Regions from separate parts of the Homo sapiens genome. Here regions 2 and 3 are each linked to region 1. The links come from fine-mapping of genetic effects on gene expression. A gene starts in region 1. Each other region holds a variant in brackets. All regions are shown on one strand. Distances are from middle to middle.

Region 1 (8,187 bases):
TTATGATTATTATCTAATGACACATTATGTTAAAAGATCCTGCCATTTGCAAATGTCTCTTCAAAAATTTGATTAAAAATTTGCAAATATTCTCAACACAGTATTTCTGGGGAAAAACATCAGCAAGGAATATGAATAGACATTTTTCTAAGAAGATATACAAATGGCCAATGAGCACAAGAAAAGATGCTCAACATCACTAGTGATTAGGAAAATGCTCATCAAAACCATAAAGAGATACCACTTCATACCTCTTAAAATGGCTATTATCAAAAACATAAATAAAAAACAAAATAAATATTGATGAGAATGTGGAGAAGTTGGAATCCTTGTTCATTGCTGGTGGGAATGTAAAATAGTGCAGCTGCTATGGAAAACAGTATGGCAATTCTTCAAAAATTAAATATATAATTACTGTGTTCCATCATTTTCACTTCTGGGTTCCCAAAAGAAGTAAAAGCAGGGACTCTAACAGATATTTGTACACCCGTGTTCATAGCAGTATTATTTACAATAGCCAAAACATGGCCCGAGTGTCCATCAAAAGAGAATAAACAAAGTATAGTCTATACATTCAATGGAATATTATTCAGCTTAAACAGGAAGGAAATTCTAGCACATGCTACAACATTGATGAATCTTAAAGACATTATGCTAAGTGTATTAAGCCAGTCACAAAAGGACAAATATTGTATGACTTCACATATATGGGATACTTGGTCACATTCATAGAGACAGAAGTAAAATGGGGGTTTCCAGGAGCTGAGAGAAGGAGGGAAAGAGGAGGTATTGATTAATGGGTATAGAATTTCAGTTTTGCAAGATAAAGACAGTTCTATGGATGGACGGTGGTGATGACAGCACATCAATGTACTCGCTACCACAGAACTGCATACTTAAAAAAATAGTTAAAATGGGAAATGTTATGTTATGTATATTTTATCACTATAAAAAAAGTCTCCCTAAACCTGTGAGGCAGTGGTAAAGACCAAGAATATGCTAACTTTTCCTTATGCCACCAAGGAAGAAAAAAATAACATTTCAGTACCTTCTATGTAGAAATCACTCACTTATCCGCACACAAAAGCAAAAACAAAGCAAAACAACAACTTTGATTATGTATTACTAGCCCTTCTTTACAATGAGGAAACTGAGGTTCCTAAGTTAATGTACCAAGGTAAGTAGTAAGAACCAGTAATAGGTTTCAAAGGCAGATCTGCCTGGCTCCAAAGCCTGCGTTCTTTTCACTCCACAGTGTTTTCTCCTACCCACAGAAGTCTTTTATGAACAGGCTTTCTACTTTGACTATACAGCTTTTAGACTTAAAAGTTGGGCCTGCTTTCTGAAGCAGGCTAAACAAAGTCAGTCAAACAAACACATTCACTACATGTCCACCATATGAGGCCCAAGGCTGGCAATGAAATAATGGAGTCATGTTTCCATTCAGCCATTGGCCATATGGCAGAAAAAAAAAAAAAAAGCACAATTAAAATTTCTGTGTTGGTCTACTCCTCAAAAGCCAGTGAATACCCCAGGAAAAATCATTAAGTCTTTCAATATTCCATATGGCCAGAATAAGTGGAAATAGTTTCATTTTACAATGTAGAAGCATATTCATCTTTTTCCTAAACATTCTACCATCATAGTTACTGATCTGCTGTTACTCACTAATGTTCTGCTTCAAGCTGGAATTTAACGATTAAGAAATGTTTTGTGCTGTGCAGAAAATAGGCACCTCTTAGTTGTTTTCAGAAAGATAGCAAGGCCCTCTTGACTCTACTATGCCCGTCGGGCAAGGTTTCATTTTCTTACTCATGTGTGAAACACACACAGAAGACTAATGCAGATTGTCTGTGCCTCCCCAAACAAAGTAGGGTGTTGGCATTATCTAGTGAATACAGCCTGCAGAGGAGTAAGTACCAAAGGGTAAGCCTGTCCTTATCCATGCAGCTCAGGTTGCCAACTTTTTACTTCATTTCATGATGCACAGCTTGATTCTAGAACTCCACTGGGTCATTCTGGATCGAAGATCTATCCTAGGTCTCTTCTCTAAGAAGATGATCTTTACATACTTCCCTTTAAGATGCAAATAGGAAGTGGAACTGCAAAATCCATGTCACGACTTGTTTTGCCCACAAGTTTGATTAAATTCAGTGAATCCTTCAAGGAGTTCCATGGTTTCAATACTAGCAGTACTTTGTCTCTTAGGCATGGTGCAGGTTTACTTTAATGAGCAAAAAACCTCTGAGAAATAGACTTTTTTTTTCTTTAGTAGCTATAAAAGCTTCCCATCTCTCAAAATGTGCTGCTACTCCACAGATTTTGAGAAGCCATATCGATTTCATAAAGATAGCATTAAAAATAGCCCTATAGCTCTTAACAAGTGAGAACGATGATAAAGGAGGAGGCATATACATACATACACTCTCAACTAGCATATTTGGTATCTAAGAACCTATGTTTCAAGAATCTGTGAGTGTCAAAATATTGACTTTTTTTAAATTTTTACTCCACTATAAGCAGTTTTTTCTCTTTCTTTTGAAAAATTATCTCCTTTCATTATAGAAACTCTAGAAGAAAAACCCTTTTATCAATGACTACTTACTGCTTAACTGTACTTTCTGTTGAAGATTAAAAAAGCTTAATTCTTTAAATCGTGCTGCATGAGGGTATTAAACTCCCTAATATATCCTGTCAGAGGAATCTCACAATCTCAGTTCTCATCTGCTAGACCTATTTAGTGTACTTTTACATATCATTCATAAATATGAACAAGTCATAGACCCAGGCTCTCATTAAGAACATCCTTTGCTCAAGAAAATCAAAGAATAAAAATCATGTTCTGGTTTTACTACTTCAGTCTATCTACCAGATATTCGCGTAAGGAAACAACCCAGCTGCACTTTTTTATTTTGTCCCTCACCGAGGCTAACATGCACCTTGACCTAGAGGTGAATAAAATGCATATAAACATAAAATCCATGCATATGCTAGTATCTGATTCTGGACAAGTTACTGGCCTTAAACCCGCCACGCTCCTTTGAACAAGGATGCAACTTTAGGATAAGACCTACTGGCAAATGATAGCTGTGTCTGAGGTTATCCTGAAAGCAGCTGCACAAGCTGAGGGAGGAAGACACTGTTTTTTAATGGTAAATACTGCCCCTCACATACGCAATTCAAGCCTTTGTTGGCAAAATCTAAGTACAAAAGAATTTAACTCCCCCAAAAGCCAAATCACAGCCATTATTTTTGCAAAACAGAAGATATCCCAGTGCAATGTGTAAGAAAGAGAATGCAATTAATATTTTACACCACTCACTCCCCTAAAACAAGGGGACTGCCGGGCTCCGATGACCAGACCACAGCTTCACAGCCCCAGATGGATTTCGACTCAGCCCTGGTTTTCCTCCGAGAGAACTATACAAACAGCTTCTTGTATTTAGCATGTTGGCCTGTTTAGTCATCAAATCTAAGCACTGATGATGAGGTTTTTTTAAATCAAATGTGTCATAAATGTGGTTATTCTCAAAGACCCTTCCAAAAGAATCTAATCATTTCCCCTAGTCCTGAAGCGATGTCTCTATCATCCCTTAGAAATCGGACCTTAAAACCACAAGCGACGGTCGTTTTTCTCAATTAAAAACGAGCAACATGGAAAACGTTTCATTTACCTTAGCTCCCGAGGCTTGGTCCGAGGAGCGTGGTTTTCCCCTCTCCGGAGCTGATCTGTGCAGGCGAGCTCCGGCGCAGCCCAGCCCAGCCCAGCCCAGCCCAGCAGTAGTAGGAGTTGCCCACGGAGCGCGGCGGCAGCGTTGTGAGTATGTGTAGCAGCGGCTGCAGCCCAGGGACTAGTCCCCACCCAGCTTTGTCTTCAATCAACGTTCTTTCTACAGGAAGCAGCGCATCTCCCACTTCCTCCTCTTCTTGGTAGCTGTTAGCGGCTTGCTTCTTTTCCCTCTCATTTCCATTTCAGGGCTTACTCTGGTGGTTTTGTCTGCTCCTGGGCTGCTGACAGTGATTTGACTTTAATCCCCCTTCTCCCTTTGTTCAAGTCCCTCTGGTGCTGTCTGTTCCTTCCTTCCCCTTTTCTCATCCCCCCACGGTCACCTCCACGACAGCTTCCACACACTGCTCAGTCGGCCCCCTTCCTGGCACACTGCCTGCTTTTTTAGCCTGAACCTGGCTTGTTGCTATTGTTGTTCTTGCTGTTGTTGTTTCTACTGCTGCTGCTGTTTTTTTTTGGGTCAACATCCCCTGGCCAGGTTCTGGCCCCCGAGATCCCACACCAGCCTCCACTGTTCCTCCTGATTTACTGTGGTCCCCATCAAGCCAGCTAGCTGGGAGCTTGCAGCTTGCAGCTTGCAGCTTCTCACTGCAGCATTTTTCTCTGTGGCCAACATTTCAGAGGCTTCATTTCTCCAAGGTCCCACTACCACTGAGATCTTACTTAACCCACATGCTCAGAAAAGAATGGCCCTGATAAGTATTCTTATGGGGCACGGGAACTAAACCAAGTTGGCAATGCTACCTATAGGCCTAATAGTGAGGACTATTCCCAAAAGATTCTCATAGATGGGAAGGAATGAGGTGGTGCTGAATGCTGCACATTCCCAACAGAGAAACTGAATACTCCTCTCCCCATTCCACACACACTAGTAGGGCTGAAGGACCCTCATGATCCTCCAGTCCCTTCCCTTCATCTTAGGAGGTAATATCGTAGAACCCACCAGGGTAGAGCCTGCAAGCTGTCTCTGTCTGCCAGAATTTCAATCCAAATTGCCATTAATGACTGTATGAACTTGGGCAAATTATTTAACATCTATGTGCCTCAGTTTCCTCATCTGCAAAACATAGTTGATGATAGTCATGCTCTACATTGGAAATATGAGGATTAAATGAGATGGTATACAAGGTGCTAATAATAGTTCTGGGGATATAGGACGTATTCGGCACATATTAACTCTTATTATTTTTAGAGGATGTTGGGCCTCACATTCAGCAAGTGATTTCGCCAGTCAGCAGCCGAACCCTCACCAGTACTTGGTTTTCCAATTCCTCACTATTAGTATGTTCACAATTGAGCCCAGATGCTTTAATAACAATTTATTCAACGTGTGAGTCATTCTCCCCCTAGTACTAACACAAGGTACTTTGGGGAAGCTACAGATTAAACATGAGATGGGGGAAGGGGAATCCTGTTCTAGTGTCCAGGCAACATTATGGAGTTAAAAACAAAAACAACAACAACAAAAAACACCTCTTCTCAGGAATCAGTGCCTGGAAAGCTAATCTTGCCAGGAAACAGTTAATTCCCCAACTCCTCCTTTTTAATCCAGTTTTGCCTTAATCCTCCAGCAAGTAAACTAACAGGAAATGTTAGAAATCTAGGACTGATGGAGAATAACTCTCCAGTTGAGCCTTCCAAACACATCGTGAGGACCACAGCACGTTAACCTAGAAGGTACAGAATTTAATTTCTATGAAATGTTCTGAGACAGTCCCAAAACACCCTTTGTTTTGATTTGAACAGTTTGCTTATTTTTTCAAGGAAATCTTTCATCAAAAAGGACCCTGATGTCAACTCACTCACACCTGAAAATTACAAAATGGATTGATTTAAGATTGAAAATGAGCAACTAGCTTTGATCCACCAGCAGATAGAAATGCAGTAGTGAGAGGGATTGGGCATGAATCCACCAACATGTGAGTTATCTCCAAACCAGGAACCCTTGTGCCAAAGGTTACCAGGAACTTTTAAATGTAAATTTAAATATGCATGATGCCAAGTCTAAGAAAAATGAGAAGCATGTTATTAATGGTTGGAAACAAGACTATGGTTAATTTTAGACAAGTAGGTTCTGGCATAAACTCTAGATTCAAGTACAGTAATTTTTTGTGTCTTTTTGTTTCTAACTCTCTCTCAACCATCCTCCGATGGTTGGTATTTATATTTAAGCCTATATAGGTTGGTATTTATACTTAAGCCTATATAGGAAAACCTCTTTCAAACAATAAAATCTCTAGGAATTTTGCCTGCTGCCTTTTAATTAGTTCTTCCATCTCTGGCCCTTATAAAACTCACAGTAGGTTAATCGCCAGTGTTGGGAGGTGCCAACAAAACTCTATACAAAGCTAAAAACTAGATTTTAAGACCTCTCTTTCATTAATACCTCATTGCTTTTCAACTGGTCCTAATAGCCTCTTTTTCAGGAGAGAAAAGTAAAGTGTGGGGGTATAGCTTGGCCAGGATAGATTAATCCAGTTTAGAGCTCTTAACACAAGTTTGCATACCAAGTTTGCAAAGTGTTAATTTCTTAGGAAAATGACATCTCGCCATTAATAGTTTATGCATCAATTGCTAACCATGAGCCTATCCCAGTACATTTTATCACTGGGTAAAACAAAGTCTGTAAAATACTCTAACATTCATGCATGGCCTATTTGCAGGCATTAATACCTTGTATTTCTTACATCTACTGGTAGCGGAGGTTGGGTAATGAGGAGGACATAATTTTGGCCTGATGTCTCTCCTATGTTATTGAGCTTTCTAGCTGGATGTTCCTTGGAGTTATGTTTAATAATCCCCAAATTATGTACTATACCTTCATCCAAAGCCTGTTCCTCTTTCTATATTCTCCATTTCATTTAATGAGGAATACAAACCAGTTGCCCACATCAGGAATATAAGAATAATCCCAAAACCTTTTATCTTTGTTATCCCAATCTGATTTAAAGTTCCTCTTCCTTTCCTTCTCACCACCAAACTATCTCCTTGCCCAAACCCCTCCTCTCTCTTCCTCTTGCCACTGTCTTATTTTACAAATGCTTTGGTTTTTTCTGTGCAATTACAATACTTTCTACTTTGTCCTCCTACCTCCAGTCTCTCTTCGAAGCCATCCCCATCAGAAGTACATTGCTGAGATGGAGAGTTGATCAAGTCACTTTCCTACTATAATTCTTCAGTATCTTCCCCTCCAGGTTGCTTACAGGATATATGCCTTAATTCCTCTGCATGGCATACAAAGCCTTCTGTGATGTCACCTGTCCACATTCTCACCTTAGGGCCTGTCGCAGCCTTATATCCTACAACCTTCACAACAGGTTCCTGATGGGACTGTGCTGCTTTCTCCCTGCATCTTGGCACATGCTATTTCTGTTGCCAGAAATGCCCTATCCCTTCCTCTATTTTGCCTGCTAGTAAACCCCTACTTATCCTTTAGGACTCAGCTTTTCTCAGAAGCCTTCCCTGGCCGTGGAAACTAGGCAGGTGCTTCCTTTTCTGTGAGTATGACTGGTGCCTTGCCTCTACTTCCATTTCAGCACTAAAGCCATTATTTTCAGGTTTTGTTAGATGTGCATCTCACCCATTAGCATTTGGGTCCATTAAGGTTAGGTCCACATTTGCTTGTCACACAGCAGAGTCAACAGATGTTTGTATAATGAAAAGGCATCATTGGCAGAAATTCCATTCCTTTGAGTGAGGGGAGGAAAAGGAAGTCTCAAAAATGAGAAGTTGGTCATGGGGTAAGAAATAAAATCCCTCCCTCTCTATATATATATTTTGCAAATTTTCTATAGAAATCCATGGCACATGCACACAAAATTCTGAATATTTGTTATATGGGCAAGCCTAAAAAATTCTGGGACAACTCCTAGTTCCATTTCTGCATTGAACTTCTTATAAAGAAGCATAGTCTGGCAACAAAAAAGTAATTAGAAAATAAATATTAAGGCTGGGCTCAGTGGCCTATGCCTGTAATCCCAGCAATTTGGGAGGCCAAGGCAGGCAGATCACTAGGTCAGGAGTTCAAGACCAGCCTGGCCAACACAGTGAAACCCCATCTCTACTAAAAATACAAAAATAAGCCGGGTGTAGTGGTGCACGCCTGTAGTCCCAACTACTCAGGAGGCTGAGGCAGGAGAATCACTTGAACCCAGGAGGCAGAGGTTGCAGTGAGCCAAGATTTTGCCATTGCACTCTACCTGGGCAACAGAGCAAGACTCCGTCTCGAACAACAACAACAAAAAAGAAAAGAAATATTAAAAAGAAAGCTATTCTTTATTTGTATCTCTGTAGGAACTTTAAAGAGACTGATGAATAAGCTAGAAACACTTCTCACATCCCCTTCTGCACTCTCAAATCTTTGCCACATTCCAACTGTCCCAGAGCATCTCATATGCCAA
Region 2 (8,187 bases), 55 kb after region 1:
TTGCATTACTCCTGTGAGACAAATATCATTATATCCATTTTACAAATGAAGAAGCTGCGATACAGCAAGGTTCAGTAACTTGCCCAGAGTTACACAGCTAGAAGGTGAGAGAAGGGGTTTAAAGCTAAGGCTTTCTTATTTCAAATCCCAGGCTTTTAACGACATACCATGTATTCTCCCATGGATTTTTGAAAGTAAAAACATCATAGTTGGAAAAAATGAAGAGTTGATACAGAGAAGGCTGATACAGAGAAAGCAGCTTACATCTGTGTCTTGAAGACTGAATGTTCAATTCTGTATTCAGTAGCTTGTTGCTCCATAATTGTCAGCTGCATCTTTTTGCCTCAGCAATCAGGTCTCCATGCCTCCTTCTCTCTCACATCTGCTCTGTGTGCCCACGTGTCTGATCTACATGCTGCTGCAGTGTGGGTCTTCCTAAAAAACTATCTTCTCATGTCACTTCCTCCTGGGACAGCTTCAGAACCTACCAGTTAAAGCTCAAATTCCTTATCGTGGCACGGAAAGCCTTCCTCACCTTGCCCTGCCCTTACCTTCTGATCTTTTCCTACACCATCTCTCTGTTTCAGTCAAATGTGCTTAATTCACTTTACTAAGCCATAAACTTTCAGGGTAAGAAGGAACTTTAAAGTCAAGTAATTCAAACCATCTGTATCAGTTAGCTATTGCTGTGTAACAAACTACCCCAAAACTTAGTGCTTTGCATTTCTAACAATTCTCAGGGTGACTGGGTCGTTCTTTTGTAGATGTCACTTGCGGTCACACATATGGCTCCATTTGGCTCTAGCTGGGCTGGACGGGAAGTTCATGAAGGCCTCTCTCACACCATGGGATCTTTGTGTTATCAGCCGCTGAGTTCCAGGGTTCTTCCACATGGCCTCTCACTCCACGAGGCATCTCGCTTCACGAGGCATCTCGCTTCGTGAGGCATCTCACTCCCAGGACTTCTGCGTGTGACCTCTTGCTCCACAAGGTGTCTAACCCTCTGGGGCTTCTCCATTCGGCCTCTTGCTCCATAAGGTGTCTCCTCCTCTAGGCCTTCTCCACGTGGCCTCTCACTTCACAGGGCGTCTCATCCTCCAGGCCTTCTGCATGTGGCCTCTTGTTCCATGAGGCATTTTACTTCTAGGCCTTCTCCACATGGCCTCTTGCTCTGTGAGCTGTCTCATTTTCCAGGGTTCTTCCGCATGGCCTCTCTCTCCAGCAGGATAATCTTAATGTTCTTATCCTTGGTTTCTAAAAGGGAAAAAGCAGAAGCTATTGTACTTCTTAAAGCTTAGGCCTCTAACATATACAATGTCACTTCTGCCACATTCTATTGGTCAAAGCAAGTCACGGAGCCAGCCCATATGGACTCCATCTTTGGAAGCGAGGAGTGGCAACGGGAAGCTGTGGCAATCTTCTCCCTCTCCCTCTACATACCTCTGCCTCTGACTCTTCTGACATCTCTACCTACTGTTCTTTCTTAGCATAGCCATATTACAGAGTTTAAAGAGTGGGCTCCAGGGCTACCCTTATCTAGGTTTGAATCTCAACTCTTACCTACTCTTTGAGCTTGAGCAAGTTACCAAACTTCTTTGTGCTTCCATTTGTTCAACCATAAATTACAGGGAAATATAAATCCTACCTTAGAGAGTTGTTGTGAGAATTAAATAAGCTAATACAAAGGTCTGGAACAGTGTCTGGCTTTAGTAAGTGCTTCATAAATGTTAATTAGTAGTAGTATTTGGTGGCTCTAGCTCTCAGTTTGGTGCAAAACACAAAGAAGTCAGGTGAGGCCTAGGGTTTAAGCTCCAGGGCAGGGGAGATTAGAAGTAATATATACATAATCCCTAAGGAGTCACCGTTGCACCAAAATGCCTTGATTTAATTGATTAATGAGAAATATTTCAGGGGAGGGTGTCTAAGTGCTTCTTCAGCTTCTGAAGTGCTCCTCCTATCATAGAACCCCTGTTTCTGTAAGGTGGAAACGCACAACCCATGCCCTGTAAGGTAATCTCACAGTCATCTGAGGTTCCATTTACCTAGTCATGTTGCAACCCTCATCTTATCAAACCTTGGACTCCCAATACTGAAATTCCCTTTTTACAAGGGCACTTTTCAGATCCAAAGGAGAAGTCTACGGCAGAAGCTTGTCCGCAGGATTCTGGATACTAGCAATTCCAATCTTGGCATGCAACACTCAGCTCTGAGGAGCAATGATTTACAGCAGCAGAGTCTGGGCAGGAGACCCAGCAGCTCCTGCTACACGTGACGGAGCACAGATCCCCGAGTGAGGGCAAGTGGGGATGAGCTAAGGGAATGAATTGTGAGCTGAGGGCAGACCTCTGCGGATATTGCTAGCCTCTCTCCCTCTGATCATTAGTCATATATTCTGTGGCTTGTGAGTCTTATTTTTCCAGTTCCATTTGTTTTGTTTCATGAACAGGTTAATCATTGCTCTTACTAACAGAGAGAAAGAAAAGCATGATTTAAATTCACTCAAAGGCTGAGAGTAATCATACTAATGCATTAGATCAGATGATGCTTTGGGGCAAGATTGCTATTAGTCTGCCATAACTCATCTGATAGTTCTGTAATAAGCCTTCCTGCCATTATTTATTATTTGTTTTGTAGCATGAAATATACAAAATATAGTTACAGAAATGAAAGTGGTATGTAGAACTTATGCCTAAAATTCTGAAATACATTTGTGTCCTTACTGTCTTCGATTCATGTAATATTTTTGGAGTACCAAGTATGTGCTAGGCACTGGGAGCAAAAGGGAATATGGGAAAGGGAATCAGGTGTTTATTGAACCCATACTCTTGTCAAGGCAGCCTGACAATATCAGATTCCTAGTGGGTCCTGGAAGTCATAGTCTCTGTCCTCAACAGCTTATGATGGTGCGGAGATGGCAGGCACACAGACATGAATAGATACAAATAAAAATCAAAGACAACATACTACCATCAAATACTTTGAGGCTAAGTGAGAGTATGGATTGTAAGTGTGAGCTCCTGTGGTCATGCAAGTCTTTCTTCAGCCCCAGGGCCCTGGACAGCTACAGTCTGGAGGGCTGTCTTTGTAGTCCAGAGCCCTGTTTCTGGAGGAAGGTTCCATGGAGCTCACACTTAACAATCTCAGCATGGGCTTGGAGTCCAGGATAAGGTTCTGGGCCTACCATATACCAGCTGTGAGAATCTGGCAAGCTACTTGACTCCTCTATGCTTTGGTTTCTTCATCTATAGCTTGTACATGAGTTAAATCCAGCTCAGAGGGCGGCGATGAAAATTAAATGAAGATAAAATACTCAGACTAATCACATCATCAGTACACTCTAAGCTCCAGATCTTAGAGTTTTTATTGTTTTGGTGAATGGAGAGAAAGGGGGAGGAACAACATCAGAGGTTTACAGTAGAGGCTGATCTAAGCCATCTGTTACAGGACAAGACTAATTAGCCTGGGGTCATCGCAGCCTCTCCCACTCTCTATCCAGAGTGTGTGGGAGATAGAGAGAAATGGAGGAGGATGGGATTTGCTGCAGCCAATCTCTTGTATTTCCTTTGACATTCTCCCAGAGGATCCAGTAGGGTTTCAATTGCTTTTCCATCATTCTTGCCCTCTAACTGCTCTTTATGTAAATATGGCATGGGCAGAGACTGGCAAGGGGGGGTTCTGGTTATTTCCTCCTAATTGGAAGTGATCTCAGCCACTCTGAACCCTCAGGCCACGTTGTTTGAACTCCCTTAAAAAAAATCTTGATATAGTTTGTACCATAATATGTTTCCTTTTGCAGATGTCATACGTCCCTGATAAATCTCATTAGGATAAAAGCTGGACCTTAACTTGCTTTGAAATCTTGCTTTGCACAGAGTAGCTTGTGATGATTATTGTCAAAATAAAGAGAAGGGTATTTTCTAGGGTTAGAGATAAACCCACTACTGGAAAAAGAAGGCTCCAACCGTAAATAGTGGAAATCTTAAGAATTTTATAATGTCAATCTTGAATGGGATTTTAATTCATTCTAGGAACTGGATGGGAATCTTCAATCTGAAGGGAAGATTTAACTACTTGTTTTTATTTCAGATACTGGCATTGGGCAGGGCTGAGAAGCCTCTGCCAGCCTTGGGCCAGGAGGGGCAGCCGCACTTTTGTTCCCTGCTGAGGTATAGCACTCTATTAAGATGTGCTGGAGTGGGGGCTGTAATGTAATTGGCTTCCCAGTCAGATAGCTGTGACCATCATTTGAAGGCAGGAGAGATATTTTAAAATGAATTTCACTTTCAGCCTAGGATGCCAAGGAGCTTCTTCACTGTACAATATGAGAAAAAAGCAACATATCATCCATATTACAGTTTAGAAAATATCACAGGAAAGGAAGATACACAGATAAATTTTGGATTTATCTTTTCCAGTGGTATCATTGCATAAGACATTCTTATAAGCAAAAATGGAAGTTTACAAGTAGTTTAATATTTAGAGCATTTAATTCACTCCTTCCCATTGCCCCCAGGCTGGGGGGCACGAATGACACAGGAAGGCCAGTCTTCATGGCGTCCCATTGAAAGAAGGACTTCAGGGAAATAAGAGGGACAAGGTACGTTCTATAAACCAAGCAGAGCGTGACCTATTGTTAAATGCCCTTTTGAGGCTGGAGGCTCTTGAACAAGGCTCTTCAACTCTGGATGCACATTCCTGTCATTTTTTTTTCCTGTTTGATTTTTACTTTTTATTGAGATATGACATATATCTGGTAAAGTGCCCTAGTCTTACGTGTAAAGCTTGATGAATTTTACAAGGATTTTTTACAATTTATAAGTAGTTTGTACTTTTATATTATATATAAATATATAATAAATACTGTGTAATATTTTATCAAATGCATATACAACAATTTATTCATTCTACTATTGATGGACATTTGGATTTTCCCATTTTTTGGTTATTATAAATAAAGCTTCTGTGAACAATCTTGCAC[A/G]TGTCATATCCACTCAATTCTAGGAGTGGAACTGCTGAGCCATAAGGAAGGCATATGTTTAGCTTCAGTAAATACCGCCAAACGTTTCTAAAATGTCTATATCAATTTCTATTTCTACCAGCTATGTAGGAGAGTTCCAGTTGCTCTCATATAACTTCTCCAACAGTTGGTATTATCCAATTTTTAAAACGTTAACCTGCAAAGCTTTGATAAGGTACTACTCTTCGAAGTCTTATGAAATTCTTCTGGGGCAGGATCTATTTTTGGAAGCTCTGTGAGTGTCTTTGCTTTCCCAGGCAATGCTAACATGCAGCCAGGGTTGAGAATCATGCCATAGAGAGATGTCCTAATTTGGCTAGTTATTGGAATCAACTGGAGAACTTCAAAAACTATAGGTTCTTGGGTTCTCTTCAGACCTGCCAAATCAGATCCTCCAGGAGAGGTTTTCCCAGAGAATCTGCCTATATAGTATTTCTTTTATAACCCTTTATGTTGCAAGTGATAGAAAATTTATATCCTGGGTTAAATTTTAAAAAGAAAACATTAAAATAATTGATTTATATAACTGAATAGTCCAGATTGAGCCCTGACTCCAGGTACAGTTTGATCCAGGAATCAAATGGTAAGTCTTGATCATAACTCTTAGTGCTTTCTTTCCATCAGGCCCATTCCCTTCATGGCAGCAACATGTCTGCCACAGTTCTCAACCTCAGAACTTCACTCAGCACCACCTAGGTTGCTACCACATTCTGAGCAATCCTCATCTTCTCAACAATTCCTAGTATTTATTGTGTCTCATTGCACTGGGCAACACACTCATCTCTGAACTAATCACTGTGGCCAGAGAAGATGGAAGGTGCTGATTGACTTAAGGCAATCCCTTAGAGCTGAAGACTAGGTCATTTAACCAAAATATGTGACCAAAACGTGTGGATGAATTTCCCAAAGGAAAATCAAATGGATGTTGTCCAGGGACATAAATAATGTCCACATTTACTATGTGACAGTACACTCTGTAGTCATCAAAAACCCATTTTGGAAAGCAACTTACAGCCTTCTGGTCAAGAGAGTTTCTCTAGGGAGTCTGGGCTAAGCCCCACAAGGTTGTCAAGATGTTTGTTTTATTGTCTTCTTTCCCCTTATCTCAACAGTAGAGAAATGGAGGATATTCTTGAGGACAGAAACTAGAAGGTATTTTTGGAGGTGAGGGAGGGTTGGTTTTGAGATGTTCTCAGGGCTAAGTACTGACTCCTGTGTCCAACTCTTAGGCTTCATTCCCCCAGCCTAGAAATAAATTTGCTAAATTGTAGTTAGTTCTTGATTAATAGGTATCCACTCTCTTTTTAAATTATTATTATTATACTTTAAGTTCTAGGGTACATGTGCACAACAAGCAGGTTTGATACATAGGTATACATGTGCCATGTTGGTTTGCTGCACCCATCAACTCATCATTTGCCTTAGGTATTTATCCTAATGCTATCCCTCCCCCAGCCCCCAACCCCTGACAGGCCCTGGTGTGTGATGTTCCCTGCCCTGTGTCCAAGTGGTCTTATTGTTCAATTCCCACCTATGAGTGAGAACATGCAGTGTTTGGTTTTCTGTCCTTGTGATAGTTTGCTGAGAATGATGGTTTCCAGCTTCATCCATGTCCTGCAAAGGACATGAATTCATCCTTTTTTATGACTGCATAGTATTTCATGGTGTATATGTGCCACATTTTCTTAATCCAGTCTATCACTGATGGACATTTGGGTTGGTTCCAAGTCTTTGCTATGGTGAATAGTGCCGCAATAAACATACGTGTGCATGTGTCTTTAGAGTAGCATAATTTATAATCCTTTGGGTTCTACCTAATGGATATATCCCAGTAATGGGTCAAATTACCATTTGATTGCTGGATCCAATGGTAATTCTAGTTCTAGATCCTTGAGGAATCACCACACTATCTTCCACAATGGTTGAACCAATTTACACTCCCACCAACAGCGTAAAAGTGTTCCTGTTTCTCCACATCCTCTCCAGCATCTGTTGTTTCCTGACTTTTTAATGATCGCCATTCTAACTGGTATGAGATGGTATCTCATTGTGGTTTTGATTTGCATTTCCCTGATGACCAGTGATGATGAGCATTTTTTCATATGTCTGTTGGCTACATAATTGTCTTCTTTGGAGAAGTGTCTGTTCATATCCTTTGCCCACTTTTTGATGGGGTTGTTTGTTTTTTTCTTATAAATTTGTTTGAGTTCTTTGTAGATTCTGGATATTAGCCCTTTTTCAGATGGGTAGATTGCAAAAATTTTCTCCCATTCTGTAGGTTTAGGCATCTACTTTCTGAAGCTGTGGAATTGGACTTGCTTCCTTAACAGCTGTCCTTTCATACACATACTCTAGAATAACCTGAACAGGCGGTTGCATGCCTGGCATCTAGTAGATAGAGGAATATACAGAACAGTCCCTACCACAAAGAATTATTCATCTCCAAATGGATAAGTGAGGGTGAGAAATGTGCCTATGAGCAATGGAGCATGTTTCATGGAGCATTAGCTCATGTTGATACTTTCAACCACCTGCTCTGGGTCCTTCTCTCTGTTTTTAAAATATCTTGTTACATAGGTAAGTTTCCAACTCTTTCATACATACTTATATATATATATAGAAATAGTGTGTACACACCCCTACCTAATTTGACATTTGCTGTTACATATTATCACACCAAATCCTGTATTCAAATTACAATGCTGCCCAGAACTGCAGACATTAACCCCACCCCATAAAAGAGCATTTGTTGTGCACTGGTGGCTTCATTCTAGGTTACAGGCTGATTCATATGATTTATAAACAATATACCCATTAGGTAGAATTTTCACAGGAGAGTGTGGTGGTCATGATTTTCTTTTTTCTTCTTTCTTCCTTCCTTCTCTACCCTCAGTTCAGGTGTCCTGGAATAAAATCCAAATAGTGCAGAGAGGTCTATGATATATTGGTTGGTACTATCAGAGAGTAGCACCAGCTGTCAGAAAAGAAAAACAAGGCCAGGTGTGGTGGTGCACCCCTGTAGTCCCAGCTACTTGGGAGGTTGAGGCAGGAGGATCACTTGAGCCTAGAAGTTTGAGGCTGCAGTGAGCTGTGATTGCACCACTGCAGTCCAGGCTGGGAGAGAGTGAGACCCTGTGAAAGAAAGAAAGAAGAAAGAGAAAGAGAGAGAA
Region 3 (8,187 bases), 150 kb before region 1:
CCTGACCCTGGGTGATCCACCTGCCTTGGCCTCCCAAAGTGCTGGGATTATAGGTATGAGCCACTGCGCCCGGCCCCTTATTCCTTCTTGGTGCTTGACCTGAAAACTGGGGAGAGCTGCCATCTTGTAGGCAATGAAACTTTGGCCATGTCTCTGGAGTCTGGGGAAAAAGCATACTTTTAAGCTGAAATCCACATCACAGCCATGAGTTTAAATATGAAAGTAGAACTTTCTTATCCAGACAGCAAATATAAATGCTAAAGGACTTGAATTTTTAATAAAAAGAAAACCCACCTTGAACCAGGTTGCAATATAACACATGTAATTACATCTCCTTCAACTGCGTAACAGAATGGTTGTCAAGCCTTCCTGCATATTTCTCATTTGCTTTCTATAGATTTCACCTTTACAACTTTCTTCCTCTGGCAATCCCCAAATAATTTACACCAAATATCTGTGTGAGCTTGTTTCAGACTTATTGTTGTTGATGATATTAAATCATTTTGGGGAGGAGACTGATCAGAAGCGATGAAGCAATGATATGCATGCTGTACCCTCTGGCCACCTCCACCTTAGCGCAAAGTGGAAACTGCTTTCTAGCTTTTGCTCTCAGCTTCTCTCTGCTTCATCTGTTGGGCATAAGGGATGAAATTCGCAACAGGGGAAACCTATGGTTTCTTCCTCTCCTCTCACTGAGGTTCTCTGTAGCCCAACTGATTTATTCAAAGCTTCTATAGCTTTTATAAAATAGTATTTTATAAAAAGTGCTTTCAACATTATTTCTGCTCTAACGATAAACCTGTTTGTTTCCTTATAACCTATTTCCACTTAATAGGACCATATTTCCTCGTTAGTATCTGTTATGAATATATTTCATTTTTAACGTGGCATTTAAAAGGTAAAGTGCTTAACTTAAAATGTTTCCATCCCTGGGTGCCAGGTACCCCTTCAAGTACCAAATTGTATTTTTGGCAGAAGAAAGAACAGTTTCCTTCTCAAATCCCTGGTCCACATCTCTTCAAGTTCCATAGTTTGTATCGAAGCCATTCCTAACAGCTGTATTTGTTTCTATTCTAAAACCCAAGATCCAATTCAAGACTTCAACAAACGGAGGGTTTTGGGGCAGTTGAGTCAAGGGGTATCTTGGAGGCAGGGATTCTGATAGTAACTTAGTAATGACTTCTCCCACATAGTGACAATAATCAGAAAACCTTGTGATACAGGTAAAAGTGGAATATGGCTGTGTATTAGTTACCTACTGCTGTGTAAGAAATTGCCCAAACCCTCAGCAGTGTAAGATAACATTTAGTCTCACAGTTTCTGTGAGTCAGGAATCCAAGTGTGTCTTCACCGAGCTCCCTCAGGCATGGAGTCTCTCACAAGGCTGCAATCAGGTAATGGCCAAACTGCAGTGATCACAAGGCTCAGCTCGGGGAAGACACAGCCCAAGCATGCTCACATGGGCTACAGGCAAGACTAATGTCTCTGGCCAACAGCCCTCAAGGACATCAGTTCCTTGGCACATGTTCCCCTTTACAGGGTAGCTTGCAACATGGCATCCAGCTTCCCTCAAAGGGAGCAAGAGAGAGCCCCTAAGGCAGAAACCAGTTTTTTGAGACCGAATATCGGCAGTGATAGCCTATCACTTCTGCTATACTCTATGCACTAGAAGAAGCAAGACACTACTAATGCAGCCCAAACTCAAGGGGATTGCTTAAGGCTATAATACATGAGGAGATGGAGATCACTGGGGGCTGCTTAGATGCTGCCTACCACAGGCTACATGGCTATTCTTTTACAATCTTGATTTTTAACTTACAGCAACTTGTACTGGACAGACTGGAATAGAGAAGCTCCTAAAATTGAAACGTCATCTTTAGATGGAGAAAACAGAAGAATTCTGATCAATACAGACATTGGATTGCCCAATGGCTTAACCTTTGACCCTTTCTCTAAACTGCTCTGCTGGGCAGATGCAGGTAATACTACTGATGGAATGCAAATAGATAACCTCTCATCACAGTGAATGTGAGCACTAACAGATTTTACTACAAAATGAAATCCCATCACTTAGATCTCCTTTCTTTGGTCTGTAAACTTTTAAGTACTAGTAAATTTAAGTACTAGTAAATGAGTCTTAAAATGAACTTTCTGGGGTTTGGGTGGAGGGAAGGATATATCAAGCAGTAAGTTTGTACTGCTTGCCTGACCATGAGTGCCTGGCATATTTTTAACAGTTAAAAGAATTAGCCATTGTTGAATTGACAAACTTAAGTGAAGTTATTCTTATGCGGGGAGAGGGTCACTATAACTTACCTATAAACATCTGTTATAATGCTAAGGACATTCTTTGGAAAGCATTGTAGCAGGGTAGCTTCCTTCAGTAATAACATGGGTATTAGCAACCTACATTTGTTTGCTTTTATCAGCACAACTGAAAAAATGCTGTGTGTCTAGTTCTATACTAAAGAATATGAAAAAGACTGTTCTTGAATTTGTAATCTAATAAAAGGGCCTAATGTACATAGGTCACTTTTATAACCCAGTTGTTTAAAACAAGTTACATTTCTTAAAAGGATTTGAAATTTAAATCGGCTCCATGAGAAATGTGAAACTTGGAAATTCTTGAATGGTTTAGCTATTGTAAAAATTTTTAAGACTGATTCCTTTACATTGAAATATGAGTTATGTTACCATTTTAGTCACTTTTTTCCTCCTACCTAGAAAATATTTTAAAAATACTAAGGATTTTGGTTAAAAGGTTGCCTCAGTAATTATAGACATAGCTTACAAAGGGCAAGTATTTACCCAGATGTTATAATTTATAAGCTAAGGCTTGAAATCACACAAATTATAAAAATAATTATGTTTAATGCCCTACTTTGGCAGAAACTTACCAGATTTCAGTAAATGCAATCCTGTCTTCCAAAAAAGGATTGAAAGTTTGAATCTCTACTAAAAACTGGAGACTAGTAATAGGACAGGTAATTTTACAGTTGCTAATCTATGACTGTAATGGAAGTAAAATATCCTATTTCCCCATTCTATCACTGTGTCACTATCACTATGTCACTATCATTTTTGGCAAAGCAGCTGAAGGACCTCATTTTCCCCCTTTGTTTTAAAAGGAACCAAAAAACTGGAGTGTACACTACCTGATGGAACTGGACGGCGTGTCATTCAAAACAACCTCAAGTACCCCTTCAGCATCGTAAGCTATGCAGATCACTTCTACCACACAGACTGGAGGAGGTGAGCCCCACAAATTCTGGACAAGCCTGAAAAGGCCAACTGTTCCAGAGGACACACCACTTGTTTTACCAAAAGTCAGTACCTGACTTGACTCATTAAGCCCTCTGAGGCTTTTGTTTCATCACCTCCTCATTGGCAGATAAGATCCTTCAAGGATGTTTTTCATCCTTTCATGTTTTTGAAATCATCCTTTTACTTCACCCAGAAATCGAATGGTATTGCTCACATATAGCTTAAAAAGTAGCAAAGCTATTGGATAATGTCTCAAAAGGGAGCATATTAATCTAAATATGTTCTTTAGAGAATAAGACTACCCTTGATACCATGAGCTATATTACAGGGCTTAAGTTGGCTTTTGACACTGTGGACATATTGTCTGAGGGACCGAAAAATACTATTTAGACTAGTTCTCAAATGAGGAACTGTGGAACATTAAAGTCTAAGCCCTTTACACCATGCCCTACAACTCTGATTTGATAGCTCATCATGTGATTCTAACATGC[AGCT/T]AGAGATGAGCAATGGATTTAGAGCAATGGTCTTCAAACTTCAGTATGGCTTTAGCACCAGCCCTGGGACAGAGAAGGCTGCCAGAAATTTTCCTCTATTGCAACTGATTTTCTGTGGCTGACTGACTTCTTTATCTAGTAAATGACTGTCCCTGAATTCACTCTTCCTTTCTGTTACCAGGGATGGTGTTGTATCAGTAAATAAACATAGTGGCCAGTTTACTGATGAGTATCTCCCAGAACAACGATCTCACCTCTACGGGATAACTGCAGTCTACCCCTACTGCCCAACAGGTAAAAAGTATGCTTTAGGATGCTCCTTTAAATTAGCAGGGTAGAGAAGGGATATATATGGTATTTGATTACCCCTGCTGCCTGTGACACTGCCACCATTGCCTTCTTCCTGCCCTGAGGGCCAGTCTTTACTACCTTAAATCTACCTAGTTTATACACAAAATGCAAAGACTTGCTGTTGCAACTTGGTTACAATATACTCACCCACCACCCTGTCCCACCCCTGCTCTTCTCTCACAGGAAGAAAGTAAGTACAGTAATGTAAAGGAAGACTTGGAGTTTACAATCAGAACCTGGACCCTAAAGAACAGTGACTGCAAAGGCAAAGAAAGTAAAAAAGGAATTGGCCATTAGACGTTCCTGAGCATCCAAGATGAACATTTTGTAGTGCAAAAAGACTTTTGTGAAAAGCTGATACCTCAATCTTTACTACTGTATTTTTAAAAATGAAGGTTGTTATTGCAAGTTTAAAAAGGTAACAGAATTTTAACTGTTGCTTATTAAAGCAACTTCTTGTAAACATTTATCATTAATATTTAAAAGATCAAATTCATTCAACTAAGAATTAGAGTTTAAGACTCTAAACCTGATTTTTGCCATGGATTCCTTCTGGCCAAGAAATTAAAGCACATGTGATCAATATAACAATATAATCCTAAACCTTGACAGTTGGAGAAGCCAATGCAGAACTGATGGGAAAGGACCAATTATTTATAGTTTCCCAACAAAAGTTCTAAGATTTTTTACCTCTGCATCAGTGCATTTCTATTTATATCAAAAGGTGCTAAAATGATTCAATTTGCATTTTCTGATCCTGTAGTGCCTCTATAGAAGTACCCACAGAAAGTAAAGTATCACATTTATAAATACCAAAGATGTAACAATTTTAAAATTTTCTAGATTACTCCAATAAAGTGTTTTAAGTTTTCCTATGACTTAAGGATCTATATTGTCTCTAGGACAAAGCTGGGGGTTGGCATATATGCCTTAACCACAAAGGAGAAAGGTGATTTATGCAAACATACAGTACATAATAAAAATTCTACTTTCCTAAACTTTATTAAAGAAAAAAGCAATAAGCAATGGTGGTAAATCTCTAGAACATACCCAATTTTCTGGGCTTCCTCCCCCGAGAATGTGACATTTTGATTTCCAAACATGCCAGAAGTGTATGGTTCCCAACTGTACTAAGTAGGTGAGAAGCTGAAGTCCTCAAGTGTTCATCTTCCAACTTTTCCCAGTCTGTGGTCTGTCTTTGGATCAGCAATAATTGCCTGAACAGCTACTATGGCTTCGTTGATTTTTGTCTGTAGCTCTCTGAGCTCCTCTATGTGCAGCAATCGCAGAATTTGAGCAGCTTCATTAAGAACTGCATCTGTTTTATGAGAAAAGAACACTGCTTCAATACATAATTTTTACATTTAAGGCCATTTATTTCCTCCCAAGTATTCAGTCTGTAAAAAAAATAGTTTGAATTTAAACAAAATCACTTACCTCCTGTGTCAAAACCAAGAATATGTTTGTCTAAAGCAACAGGTAAGCCCTTTAAAAAAAGAAAGACAAAATGAGAGTATTTATGGTTAAGAATAGCATCCTTTCCTCAACTGAAACTGAAAAGCACCTAGCTATTCTGGTGTCTTAACTCTTTTAGCTGCATGGGCAAGGGAACTAGGAATTTTGTTTATATTTGCTTTGTGATGATTGTGATTAGCGAGTTTTCCCTATTTCAACCGGTTAGGGGGAAAAGTTAACCTTTAAATGTACCAGGAAGCTCTATAGCTCATCCAATCCTTTAGCCCAGGCATACAAAACAATATATCCTTATTGCAGCAGTGCCTTGTCATTACTGCTATGGAAGGCAAGTTGAGCCAGGCTGTTACTGTCTTATTTTGGCGACAGTAAGCAACAGTATAAACGGCAAAAATAGTACCTTATATTCCATTTCTGAGCACATTAATTTGTCTTTACAAATTGTACGAACCTTTCAGCCAGCATGGTGTTTGCCAAGATTATGTATAATTATGTATAATTTAACTTTCAAGACTTGACTTGGAAGTTACTTTGAAACAAACAGTCTAGGAAAATGAAAAACTAAACCACTCAGCACCTATGGACATACTAAAGATGGTGACTATGGTGATGCCAAACTTCACAGAAACAAATTCTAAAATGAGGACAGTCTGTACTTCCTGCTGATTATATAAAATCACTGCCAAGAAAAACACACTACCCGTACTTTCAATCTTTCAATGTTACAACCTGTTACTATTCAAATGCTTTAGTCACTGCTCAATTCTTGCCTTATCTAGTAATGTAAATCTACGTAGGCTCTGTCTGCTTTAAAACAGCTAACACATGTAAGTCTGAAGAAACCAATGGGTACGAAAGCACAAGTGAGCAAAATTAAAGAGCAGAATTGTACTGAGTGGCTTTATATGTTCATCTAGTACCAGAGGCTCCACTTTTTTTTCCTTTGCCAACAGGCCACCAAGCTACCCCTGAAAACTACCATATGCCTCAAATAGTAGTTATAAATGCTTATAAGTACACTAGACTGTAAGAACTCCACTAAATTGTTATAGGCTGGTATCTTTTGAGATGACACCAAAATTAAAATTGGGAGCATTAAAAATAAAACTAAATTTTACTTTACAAACAAGAGCAAAGAGATTTGGCTAAGCCTTTACTTACACTGCCTTCCAAAGCATAGTTTTGCTGAAGGAATGAATGAATGAATGATTGACTTTATTACACCAGAACAATTTACTGTCTGTTCTATAGGGAGGGTGAAATAAGCTGATCTTTAACCCAACTTCCAGTGGCTCGATTCATATACAACGAGCCAGTAAGAACCTTTAAAAGAAAACAGTGTCTTTCAGAGATACTGCCCTGGCATTAGTAACCTTTTAACACTGCTTGGCCTGCCTAAAGGGGCTGGAGGACAAAAGGCATTGGGAGATGGGGGAAGGGCGCAGGGAGGACAAACAACATAGTTGTGCCCAAGGCATTCACTACAACATCATTGCTGCAGGAGGCAGGTGTTATCAGACACTGCTGCTGCTGACCTGAGGACAGTCTCTCCACCGCTGCACAGCCAGTGAAACTTTAGGCATCTTTGGATTTCTGATATAATCTAAAAATGTTCCATATTTTCTCTTTAAGGGGAAGGTAGTCATGGGATATAGCTTTTCTCAGCCTACAAGGTAGGACTGAAAGATACCATTTCAGTCACCTGTACCTTGAACCTTACACTCCAACAGAACCCCCTGTCCCTTCACCTGGGCAGACTGACAAGCTCATGCAGACATCCACGCATGGACCCTTCTCCCCACCTACCGTAAGAGCACAGGCTCTCAAGTCAGACTGCCTGAGCTCAGTCACTTACCAACTAGGTGACCTTAGCCAAATTACTTTCTCATGTTTTATGCCAGGAAATTGAATAAAACAAGAATTTACTCTGAAGAAATAAGAGCAAGGATAGAATTTAGATAGAAAAAGAAAACTAATTTGTAGTGAGGTGTGTTCCTTCTTCTCCAGCATGAGTCAAAATAATCCAGTAAGTTTCATATGGGTAACTCATTTTAAATAAACTTCAACGGGCCACAAGCATGATTTGTGGACTGTGCATGAGCTATTTGTGGCTTTTTTAAGGTACAAAGTGAGAGGAACATGAAGTTTTTCACTCAAAAATGACCCCCTAGCCACTGAATACATTCAATTTGCTTTAGGAAGCACTGAAGTAAGCTATCCTTTCTCTAAGTTGTAGAACGTAGAATGGATATCTTAAACAGATACATGCAAAGTTTAAAATCACGGCCATACCAGAAGAAATGTTCATTAACAACTTATTTAGGATTTATAGAAACGTACCTCTTTTGTTTGATTTGCCTTAGCAACTGCATCCTGTGTCAGGCGCTCCTGAACCAAAATCCGAATTGCCTAAGAAACCCAAAAATATTTTTACTTTTTATAGGCTGTGTACCTGTCATCCTTTCTTCTATGAGCCCAGAGAATAAGGATGCTCATTTTGATGAAGTCAGAATTACCTAAGTTCATTAATAAACTCCCCATTAAATTAAAAATAAAAAAAACCCACTAATATAACGTAACCTTTCACACTTCTAGTATTTTAATA

Direction of the effects. Positions count from the first base shown, and alleles are read on the strand shown. Sizes are in standard deviations (SD) of each study's normalised expression. Not every link is listed here.
For the expression in cerebellar hemisphere of the gene that starts at base 3,853 in region 1, A is the high allele of the variant in region 2 and G is the other (moderate effect, 0.58 SD a copy in GTEx).

Evidence for each region. PIP is the estimated chance that this variant, and not a neighbour inherited with it, causes the effect.
Region 2: its variant is fine-mapped to the expression of GNG2 in cerebellar hemisphere (GTEx, PIP above 0.99). The same link has a PIP of 0.9 or more in cerebellum.
Region 3: its variant is fine-mapped to the expression of GNG2 in whole blood (TOPMed, PIP above 0.99).

Annotation. Positions count from the first base shown.
Region 1 is chr14:51,856,278-51,864,464 of GRCh38, reverse strand. It overlaps GNG2 (G protein subunit gamma 2), which reads right to left and starts at 3,853. Exons shown (of 4, transcript NM_053064.5): 1 at 3,675-3,853. RefSeq lists enhancers at 3,737-3,946, 3,733-4,234 and a silencer at 4,287-4,366.
Region 2 is chr14:51,801,688-51,809,874 of GRCh38, reverse strand. It overlaps LOC101927598 (a long non-coding RNA gene), which reads right to left. Exons shown (of 8, transcript XR_002957605.2): 3 at 1-1,254. Among named protein-coding and RNA genes, the nearest start is that of GNG2, 55 kb to the left of the region's middle. The variant A/G (reference allele first, on the strand shown) is at 4,979.
Region 3 is chr14:52,001,602-52,009,788 of GRCh38, reverse strand. RTRAF (RNA transcription, translation and transport factor) reads right to left here. Exons shown (of 8, transcript NM_016039.3): 6 at 7,923-7,991; 7 at 5,547-5,595; 8 at 1-5,427. The coding sequence ends at 5,273. It overlaps NID2 (nidogen 2), which reads left to right. Exons shown (of 22, transcript NM_007361.4): 19 at 1,822-1,979; 20 at 3,129-3,252; 21 at 3,940-4,052; 22 at 4,293-4,980. The coding sequence ends at 4,303. Among named protein-coding and RNA genes, the nearest start is that of RTRAF, 16 kb to the right of the region's middle. The variant AGCT/T (reference allele first, on the strand shown) is at 3,756.